Linked DNA regions of Homo sapiens: region 1 is linked to region 2. The links come from fine-mapping of genetic effects on gene expression. A gene starts in region 2. The other region holds a variant in brackets. All regions are shown on one strand. Distances are between the middles of the regions.

Evidence for each region. PIP is the estimated chance that this variant, and not a neighbour inherited with it, causes the effect.
Region 1: its variant is the best candidate, but not a certain one, in a credible set for the expression of AGTPBP1 in whole blood (INTERVAL, PIP 0.71).

The regions. Positions count from the first base shown.
Region 1 is chr9:85,643,104-85,648,492 of GRCh38, forward strand. AGTPBP1 (ATP/GTP binding carboxypeptidase 1) reads right to left here. Exons shown (of 26, transcript NM_001330701.2): 12 at 3,218-3,315. Among named protein-coding and RNA genes, the nearest start is that of AGTPBP1, 96 kb to the right of the region's middle. The variant T/C (reference allele first, on the strand shown) is at 2,116.
Region 2 is chr9:85,739,322-85,744,710 of GRCh38, forward strand. AGTPBP1 (ATP/GTP binding carboxypeptidase 1) reads right to left here and starts at 2,633. Exons shown (of 26, transcript NM_001330701.2): 1 at 2,454-2,633. RefSeq lists an enhancer at 1,647-1,796 and silencers at 1,967-2,286, 2,357-2,956.

The DNA of each region.
Region 1 (5,389 bases), 96 kb before region 2:
TATTGTTTTGGGGTTGTTGTGTTATTGTTGGGTAGTTTTGTTTTGTTTTTGTCATGGTTACTCTAATATAACAGAGTATTCTGGCTACTCAAAACAGAAAAACTTGTGTAAAGATCAAGACTCCATTATGAAAAACATACATATATATGATGATGGTGATAATAAAACAGCTAACATTAAGCACTGAAAATAAATGAAACACTATGCTAAGCATTTTACATCTATTATCTAATTTATTCTGCATAAGAACACTATGAAGTTACCCCCATTTAACTGAAGAGGAAAATGAGGTACGGAGAAGTTAAGCCATTTGCTGAAAATTACACATCTTGCAAAGACAGGAGCCAGGATAAAAACCAGTTAGAGTGATTCTGAAGCACCACACTGTCAGCCAGCATCACACACTGCCCCAATACAGATTAATGATGATCACACAATCTTAGAGTGCATGGGAAATAAAGTTCTTTTAGAAAAACTCAGTGTCACCATTCACTCTGTTTTCAGTGGGGGAAAAAAGTCAGGAGTGGAACAAGAGCCAGAAATGATTTCCATGTCTCTCTAGGAAAAAAAGCAGGTGGATTTAAAGGAAAAGTATGTCCTCAGAGAAACAAGATATGTATCCAGGATCAATGTGTTCTAAATGCTCTTCAGAGAAGAGCTAATGAATCCCATGATAAGAGGGCAAATGTCAGATTATCTACTACCCAAGCTATTTTCTAGGATCCTCAATGACTCTGGCCTCACACAAACTAATTATTATCTTTGTTATGGCTGAAGAGAGATAATAATACCATTTAATAATTTTCAGTTGGTACTTATTTTTAATTTTGTATTTACTTACTACCAGAGTAAGCTACTTATTTTTCAGCCTAATTTACAAGTATATTTTACTATGCTTCAATCCTTAAAAAACTTTATATACATGTATCTGACCATACTTACACATATTAACTACTAGTTTAAAAGAAAAAAACATATTATGTATTTCTTATTATTTCATATTCAGGAATTTAGCTATTATTTACATAGCCAATGAAAAAGATTTTCCTCATTGATATGCATAATAGAGATTGATTTTATTTAAATGTTATCATATTAATCACTGTATCATTATTGTATACTTATTATTACATTAATATGTAATTTAATCTCTTTAAATTATACATTTAGGAACCAATAATGTAATAATTTTCTTAACATCTAATAGAATACATAATGTTTCTAAAATAAAAAATAATTTACAAAGATATTCTTTTCTCTAAACATACTAGTTCAATATTTGACACTATTTTGTGAAAATATGGCCTTACATAGTGGCTATTTGGAGAGGAAAAAAAAAAAAAAGGCTTTACCTGTAAAACAGGTATAATGGGGAAAGAAAACTACAACACTCCGAAAGCTCAACAGCAGGGAATTTTGTGTTTGGTTTAAGAAGAAACAGTAGTGAAGGACTACTTACAGACTCATTAGAAAAAAACAAAACAACCTGCTACCACTCCTTAAAAGTTCTGCTAGTTAAGGAAGGAACAAAGAATGCACTGAAACTTATATACGGTCAAGTTGTGGCTAGCTGGAGATGAATCTTCTAGAAGCTACCAGTTTCTATAAATGCTCCAAACTCTGAAAAATCTGGGACAAAGAAAATGGAATCACAGGAAAAAAAGTTATAACCATAAGAGAACACAAATAAATAATACCCCCACTATGATGTAGCAGTTCACCTGAAGGATGAAGGAATAGGATTCAGATAAAAAAAGGAAAAATTAAGTAACGTCTAAATGTAAAGTCAATGAGAGTAAGAGGCAGGCAGCAGTAGGAAAGAAAAAGAAGATAATAAAGCTCAGCAGTCTCAAAAAGCCAACAATTCCATAGTTCTTGAAGAAAAATTATATTTTAGTACAGTATAGTGATAAAGAGAGTGGACATTCCACTAGACTGCTTTCTGAATCCTGGCTCCACCTCTTATAAACTAGACTGAGAACCTCTCTCTTCCTCTGTTTTCTATGTACTTATACAACCTGTATTTACCTCATAGGGTTGCTATAAGGATCTAATGGTTACTATGTATATGTAAAGAGTTTGGACTACCACAGTTAAGTGTTCAATAATAAAATG[T/C]ATTTTGTTCTTATTGCTATAACTGCTCTGTTAAGATAAAGTAGGGAAAACGTGAGCAATCACTGATACCCCAGTGAATAGTGAATAATGCAAGCTAACAACTACATTTTCCAAAGATGTCAATGTTATAAGACAAAGAAATCTGTAGAAATGTCCCAGATTAAAGGAGACTAAAGAGACAAGATAATTAAGGGCAATACCTGATGCCAGGACATAGATGTAGTTTAGATTGGCTAACTTGACAGTTTCGCCAAAGCTTACCTTGGTGATCACATTTGCTGGTTATAAAATGGGTTCTGTATCTATTAAGACAGAAATCTTCCAATATCTTAACTTCTATCTCCAAAGTGAATCGAATACTCAGTGTACCCCAATTTTGATACAGTTTTGCAAGACAAAAATTGGTCCAAACAGGAAAGAGTCAAATTAATCCCTCCTCCCCCATAAAAAAAACCCAGCAATAGGCTAAACAGCTAAAAAAAGAGACCATTTTTCTACAGATGCTAGAGTAGTCCTCTCTCTATAAATAAAGCAAAATACAGACTTTCTAGGCTTCCAGAGGTACAATGAAACTCCGAAAACTTACTTGCCACCTTTACCTAACATCTTATGTAATATGACAATAATTTTATATTTTCTCAATAATACTTTTTTCACTTCCTTGTTCAATTAACTGAAACCTAAGAATCATTATGCAAACACTAATTCTCACAAAAACAAATCCATTATAGAATATTTTCCTACTGTTTTTGTATCCCCAAAAGACTGCTGACAAAGGATAATAATGCATTTTGAAATAAGTTGCCACAAGAGAGTTTCAGATCACTTTCCTTCAATTTTGTAGATTTCAAAATCTAAGGCAGAAAGGTTAGATAAAATCTTTCTGGTCAGAGAGAGTGAAAATAAGTTACTTTAAGGTCCTTTTCAGACCAGTGGATTTAAACCAATATCATCTACCCCTTTAATTGCATAGTCATTCATGGTAAAAAGATGTGGACAAAGTAAAACCTAAAATTACATATATATTTATTTACCCAATTTTTGTTTTACAACTGTAGTATATCATTTATAAAGCTAACTAATTACAGAAATTTATACTAACCTTAAAATTTTGATCTAGGTCATCTTCATTCTCAGTTTCGTTTTCAGCTTCTACATCAATATCATCGTTGTCATCACTTTCATCTACTACGTCATCCACTATGATACAAAATGTGCTATAAGTAGGTCAGAGGTAAGCATTCTACAATATGCATAGCCAATGGTAGAATGTGACTTATATAAAGTATTTCAATCACCAGAGAAAAAGTAAATGAGATTTCTTATTTAACATCTCTCTAAGGCTGTCCCAGCTGTTGACAAACCCATGGGACCATATAAGAAAGTGCTTCAAAATTTGGAAAGCACTGTAAAGGTGAATTTTACTAATGTTCTCAGTTTTTAAAAATAATGTCTTATGTTGCGATAGCCTGAATGAAACATCCTGTTTTCTATTTATTATAAATTTCAATGACTCACTTCATCCCTTTATAATTGACCCCCTATTTGTTTCAATGACAGTCATGTGCCACATACTGTGCTATATGCTGGGAATTTTTTCAAAAGATGTGTAAATCGGGTTGTCTAATCTTTTTGTTTCCCTGGGCCACACTGGAAGAGGAAGAACTGTCTTGGGCTACACATAAAATACACTAATACCAACGATAGCTGGTGTGCTTAAAAAAAAAAAATTACACACACACACACAAATCTCATATTGTTTTAAGAAAATTTATGAGGTCAGGCGCAGTGGCTCACGCCTGTAATCCCAGCACTTTGGGAGGCCAAGGCAGGCAGATCAGCTGAGGTTGGGAGTTCGAGACTGGCCTGACCAACATGGAGAAACCCTGTCTCTATTAAAAATACAAAATTAGCTGGGCATGGTGGTGCATGCCTGTAATCCCAGCTACTCGGGAGGCTGAGGCAGAAGAATTGCTTGAACCTGGGAGGCGGAGGTTGCGGTGAGCCAAGATCGCGCCATTGCACTCCAGCCTGGGCAACAAGAGCAAAATTCTGTCTCAAAAAAAAAGAAAGTTTATGAATCTCTGTTGGGCCACATTCAAAGTCAATCTGGGTTGTATGTGGCCCATGGGCAGCATATTGGACATGCTTGGTGTAAATATAGTCTCTTCCTTCAGGTAGCTCATGAGGTTAAAGAGCAGAAAGGAGTAAACATGTAATTATAATACCAAAGATAAACACTAATGAAGCCATAAACTCCAAAATACTATGGGAAAATGAGGAATGAGGTGGCTCATGAGGTCAAAGAGCAGAAAGGAGTAAACACGTAATTATAATACCAAAGATAAATGCTAATGAAGCCATAAACTCCAAAATGCTATGGGAAAACGAGAAATGCAACAACTAATTGTAAACTGCTTGGAGACAAGGGGCTTGATGCTGACCACTTCACAGAATAGGTGATATTTAAGCAGTATCTTGTAGAAAGTATAACAGATTTCTATGTGAATGTAATGGTGGGTGAGTGTGGCTTCTAAGAAGAGGAAATAATACTACTAAAATAAGGAAGTGAAATGATATCTTTAGAAAATAACAAAAGGTATGACTAGGATGAAGAGTATGCTTATGAAAGTACTGAAAGGAAAATAAAGAATTAAAAAATGAAGGATGTAACATAGTAGGCCAAGTAGTACTGACTTTTAATATAAAGAAGATAGGCACTGAGAATTTTCAAGACAAGAATGGCTTAATTCAATTTTAAGAGGTGAGAGAGACAGCATACGGGTGGAAGGTGACCAACAAACAGGAAAAGAAAAAAATTCCATGTTGTAGCAGGATAGCACAGGGGTTCTAGAAACAGAATACCTGAATTCAAATCCTAGCTCCCGAACTTACTAGCTATTTGACCTTGAGCAAGTTACATCAATTCTTTGTCTTCGTTTCTTTGTCTATAAAATGGAGATATCTACTCATAGTGTTTCTGTGGGCATTAGAGAAGTTAATATACGTAAAGTGCCAGGCAGAGTATGTGTTACACAAATGTTTATTACTGCTGTTGCTTGAGGGACTGTGCTACTGGGTCTCTTTGTAACAGCAGTTTAGTCGACCCTAACTAATACAGGTACAAATATAAAAACAAATCACCTCAAATTCTTAGATAGCAAAAAATAAATATTCATATTTCACATGGTAACCTGGGTTGATTTATACTTATGCCCTAACGGCAGTTGGTCATGGATAAACAAGGGAAGAACTGACATTTGGAAGAAGAGAA
Region 2 (5,389 bases):
GCTATTCACGCACTGTTCAACTTTCAGATAGTGGGGGACTTCAAGCAAGAAAAGCAGATTTGGGAAGATGAATACTTTGGATGAGGTTTAAAAAAATTCAGGCCAGGACGGGCGTGGTGGCGGACGCCTGTAATCCCAGGACTTTGGGAGGCCGAGGTGGGCAGACCACCTGAGGTCAGGAGTTCAAGACGAGCTTGGGTAACATGGTGAAACCCCGTCTCTACTAAAAACAAAAACTTAGCCGGGCGTGGTGGTGTGCTCCTGTAATCCCAGCTATTCGGGAGGCTGAGGCAGGAGAATCGCTTGAACCCGGGAGGCAGAGGCTGTAGTGAGCCAAGATCGTGCCACTGCACTCCAGCCTGGGCGACAAGAGCGAAACTCCGTCTCAAAAAAAAAAAAAAAAAAATTCAGGCCAAGCTTGGTGGCTCACGCCTGTAATCCCTGCACCTTAAGAAGCTGAGGCTAGTGGATCACCTGAGGTTGGGAGTTCGATACCAGCCTGGCCAACATGGTGAAACCCGTCTCTACTAAAAACACAAAAATTAGCTAGGCGTGGTGACGCGCGCCTATAATCAAGAAGCTGAGGCGGGAGAATCGCTTGAACCCGGTAGGGGCAGGTTGCAGTGAGCCGAGATCGCACCACTGGCACTCTAGCCTGGGCGAGAGAGTGAGACTCCGTCTCAAAAAAAAAAAAAAAGTAAAATACAAATTACAAAATTTCATAACTGTTGGACCTCTTTTCCTTCTGCTAATGGAAGTAAAACCATTATTATATAGCAGCCTAGCCAGACTTTTCTAAAGAGAAGAATGCCTCAATTCGGAAAAGCTTTATAAAAATTGCTTCTACAAAAGTTTAATTAATAGATTTAAATGCTTTGCAATGTTGGCCAAATACGAGGGTAGTTTTAAGCCTATCCACTTCATTTCCGAGTTCAGAGTGAGTCTGCAGTTGTAATTATGTGATTAATCAATTCAAGGCAGAGTTTTGTGATCATTAAAAATGAACCTGTAACTTCACCATAGAATTTAACTTAAGAGAAGTGGAATGGGAAAAAGAGCAAGTCATATTAGAACTCTGCCTGCATGATGAGAAACAGTGGGTAAGGCACGACTTATTATTTCGCAGTAATTCTACATAGGAAATACAGATCTTTCAGAGTTTTGTTTGGTTTTGACATTTGGCACATGTTTTAAAATAAGCACCATTTAAAGTTCCTTAAATAAATCATTTCTTTTTTGGCCTACTGAACTAAAAACATTCCACAATACAATTACAAAAATAACTTTCCGGTTTTCTCAGACAACCAGTTTATAAGAATAATTCAGAAGTTCACAAAGGATAATTTGATTTACATAAAGCTTAAAAAACGGACATAAAAGGTAAGTGAAAATGACCGATTAAGAAGACTGTTAAGGTCCTTTCTAACTACAAATTGTCATGCATTGTAATTAAACACAACTACAATGTTAAACACCTGAAGGAAAAAACCCACATAGAATTAATACTGCCAAAGAAAATTTCCGCTATCTTCAGGCACTTGAGTAAGCTATGTTAAAACGGGAAATGGGCTTTAAATTATCAACATTCACATCGATTACACTATGATGCATGAAAACTCCATTCTACAATGAGTAAACGCCCAAGAAAGGAACCCAACCAACTCCAATTGCCCTGGTGCTCGTAAGAGGTTTATACCGCACAAGGGGTAAAACAACGGTAGAGTCGAGCAAGCCTTTGGGTTACAACAGTCCTTGAACACTTGCAATTGAGAACCCGCAATTCAGGAAGGAAGACACTAAGGAAACTCTGCACTGTCATCCAGGGTGATCTGATTCAGGTTCAAACCAAACGCTCAAGGCGACAAGTTGTAAACAGAAGACACACTTCAGCTCAAACCACCCAGCGAGAGGAAGCAAACGTGCCCATCGCCGATGTCACAGCAAATCCCACCTTGCTGGCGCTCAGTCGGGAACGCTAGAATTCTCGAAGCACAGGGGCCCGCGATTCAGCGGCCCGCTACCACTGGGGCGGGGGAGAGCGGGGCTGGGCGCGCCCGCCCCCGGCCCTGCAGCCCCTCGGCTGGACTCCCCGCGGCGCCGCGAGCTCGGGCCCGAGAGAAAGGGCTGAGCAGAAAGGGCGGCCTCCGCCCAGAGACCGCGCCCGATACCCTCCGCAAGGTCTGGGACGGGGATCCACCGAGGGTCCGGGGACTGGGGAAGGCGTTTTCCAGACCCAGTCAAAGCCCCACCCCGTCAGGGCTTTCCCTCAAGACCGAGTGCGTTCCCCTCACGCGTCACATGTGTAACATGCGTTACACAACCCGTCAGGTAAGGGGCGCAGGGATCCGGGGTCGCCCCTCCTACCCCCGGGCGCCGTCGCTCGCATCTCCCGCGGCCCGGGGAGAGCAGAGGGACGGCCGGCCGGGACATGAGGACTGCAGCAGGGCGCTCACCGGCTCAGGATGGGGCGCTGGCGGGGACCGCGCAGAGCCGCAGCACCCGGCTCAGCACCTGGATCACGGCGGATCCCTCGCCGCCCGCCGCCCGGTGTTTTCATACAAACCCCGGTGGCAGGCGAGGCGGAGGCGGCGGCGGCGGCAGCTGCGGCGGCGGCGCTGGAGGCGGCGGAACCTGTCCGCATCCCGGGCAACGTCAGCGCGGCGCCCCGCCCACCGCACGCCTTGCCAGCCGGCTCCCAGCACGCGCAGGGAGTGGGGGCGGGGCGTGCGAGGCCGCGAAAGGGGCGGGGCGGAGCGCACGCCCTCTTCCCGCCGCGTCCCTTGTTACCTCCGTGCGCGCTGCGCCCCGCCTCTCTGCGCGCCTGACGGGAGGGAGCGCGCGCGTGGGGGCGGAGCGCGCACGGGAGCGGGAATTAGGGGCGGGTGTTCCGCGCGCTGCCGGTCCCTTGTACCCAGCAGCCCCGGCCACCGCCCCTCCGTACCGAACTGCGAGCGACTCCCCACGTTCTTCAAGTCATCTTTCTGTACACTCCCAACGAGGGCCCCAGCCTTTTCCCGGAACTAAGCCCGCGCCCACCCCCTCCCCCGCCATCAATCAGTCACTTTCTTAGGAAGGGTTCTTAAAGCTCCCCACGTGATCCCGGGGTCGCATCAAACGCTGGGGACTGCGGTAAAGCTTAGACCTTTCCTGACCTCAAGGAGGGTCCATAATAAGAGGCTGGAAGGGACATGCTGTTACTACAATCGGGCTCCCAGAAAACAACAGGATTGCACCTTGTGGCCAAATCTCAGTAAATTAGATGCCTAGTGCTGCAGCGAACAAAATAGCATGCTGATTTACTGTTTTTTGAAAAAGTGCCTGCATATAATCAAAACGGTAATGCTAAGTTGGCTACTGAAGGCAAAGGCGGAATGTTTTATCTGAGCCAAAGTAATGTGTCAGAGAAATTACTAATACACCCCCTTCTGTTTTGACTGTACTTCAGTGTACTGCAATGTATTGCAAATAAATACTGACATCATTTACTTTTTCACGTTGCACAAGAACATGTTTGCTACTGTTTATGGTAAGGAATGTAATATCACAACTAGATAAGGGAATGCATTGAGAACTGTGAGATTTTTGTTTTGTTTTATGATCTTGTTCAAATAAAATTAAGCAGGTGTGAAAGCAATTCAAAAAGTAACCCAAGGTACACCACAGTGCTTCTTACAGTTTGCCCTTGGTAGATGTCTTTATTCAGATGAACAAGAAACTGCCATTTTATAAACATCGTAGTTTCCCTCATCGTGAGCACTAAAAGATAGGTTACGGTATTTAAAATAATTTTGAAACAACCACCACCCCAAACCACCCAATCAGAAACGTATTATCTGAAAATACCCAATAATAATGTAATAATTTTACAATAATGCTAAATATGTATGTAATATACCTGAAACTTTTCTTAAAGAACATGTTTCTAAATGAGTCAACCTGCAATATAGGAAGATATTATGTGGATGTGTGTGTTTGTGGAATTTGAATCCCACTTTCACAAGCACTGTTAGCATAGTTTGATGACCACAACACAGACCCAGGAGATTAACCCACACAAGATAAATAGCAGCATTACATAGCTTTGAAATGATTCCAATCACATAGTTTGCCACAAGAGTGAGTGATTTATGTTTTGCGGTAATTAAGAACTTAGAGCTACTCCCCCACCCCCTGGGAATGTGACATCACTCTTCATCAGATCCCACGTGTATGAAGTTGAAATAAACTTCACCTCTCCTAGCTAATGTGACGTTACACCTTATCAAACACCATATATATGTTACTGACCTCAACTACAGGATTTCGAAATACATATAAACTCAAGAATTTGCAAGATACTTTGAGAGCTCAGCGGGTGGCAGATCGCGTGCTCTGTCAGCCACTTCCCTGAACGCTACCAGCTCAGGCTGCAACAGGGCCACACCCTGTTAGCCTTTAAGCTTTGAAGCCTGTCCACCAACACTGGCACAGCCCTCTAGCATCGTGGGACCTTGCATATCCTCACCGATCTCCTGTATGTTGGACACCATCTCTCCCGAGAACCTCAGCCTCCAAAAGGTAAAGGTACACCTCAGTTGTTTTTCTTTTTCTTTTTCTTTTTCTTTCTTTTTTTTTTTTTTTTGAGACAAGACTCTCACTCTGTTGCCAAGGCTGTAATACAGTAGTGCAATCATGGCTCACTGCAGCCTTGACCTCCCAGGCTTAATGAATCGTACTACCTCAGCCTCCCACTGAGTATCTGGGACTACAGGCACACGTCACCACACCTGGCTAATTTTTTTAATTGTTTTTGTAGAGTCGGGGTCTCCCTAAGTCACCCAGGCTGGTCTCAAACTCCTGGGCTCAGCAGTCCTCCTGCCTTAGCCTCCCAAAATGCTGAGATTACAGGCATTAATACCACACCCACCTCAATCCTTAATCAGACTTTACTTTCCACAGAGGTCTGCTTCAATCTTAATTGAACAACTAGGTTTTAATAGTTTTGGAACTCACTCACTATGTAGTTAATAAACATCATCTATGGAGTGTATTCCCTGTGAAATTATTCTCTTAATTCTCTGCCTCTATACATTGTGAACCTAAGAAAATAAATTATCTTCACATGGCAATAAACCATGTTGATCCAGGATTGTTTCCTCCTTAGCTCAGCTAGATCCAGGTTCTTGTCTCAAGACCAGGAAAAATCAGGTACACGGACACTTGAAGAGTGAGTGAAGTAGAATTTGTTAAGCAAAAGGAAAGCTCTCAGCAAAGAGAAGGATCCTGAAAGCAGGTTCCCAGTTGCCCGCTTCACAGTTGAATGCAGGGGCTTTTACATGCAAGCTGATGGGGCCAGGTTCCCTATTTGTGTAAGGCGCAAATTCCTGGTGGCTCCACCCCATTCCCCCAG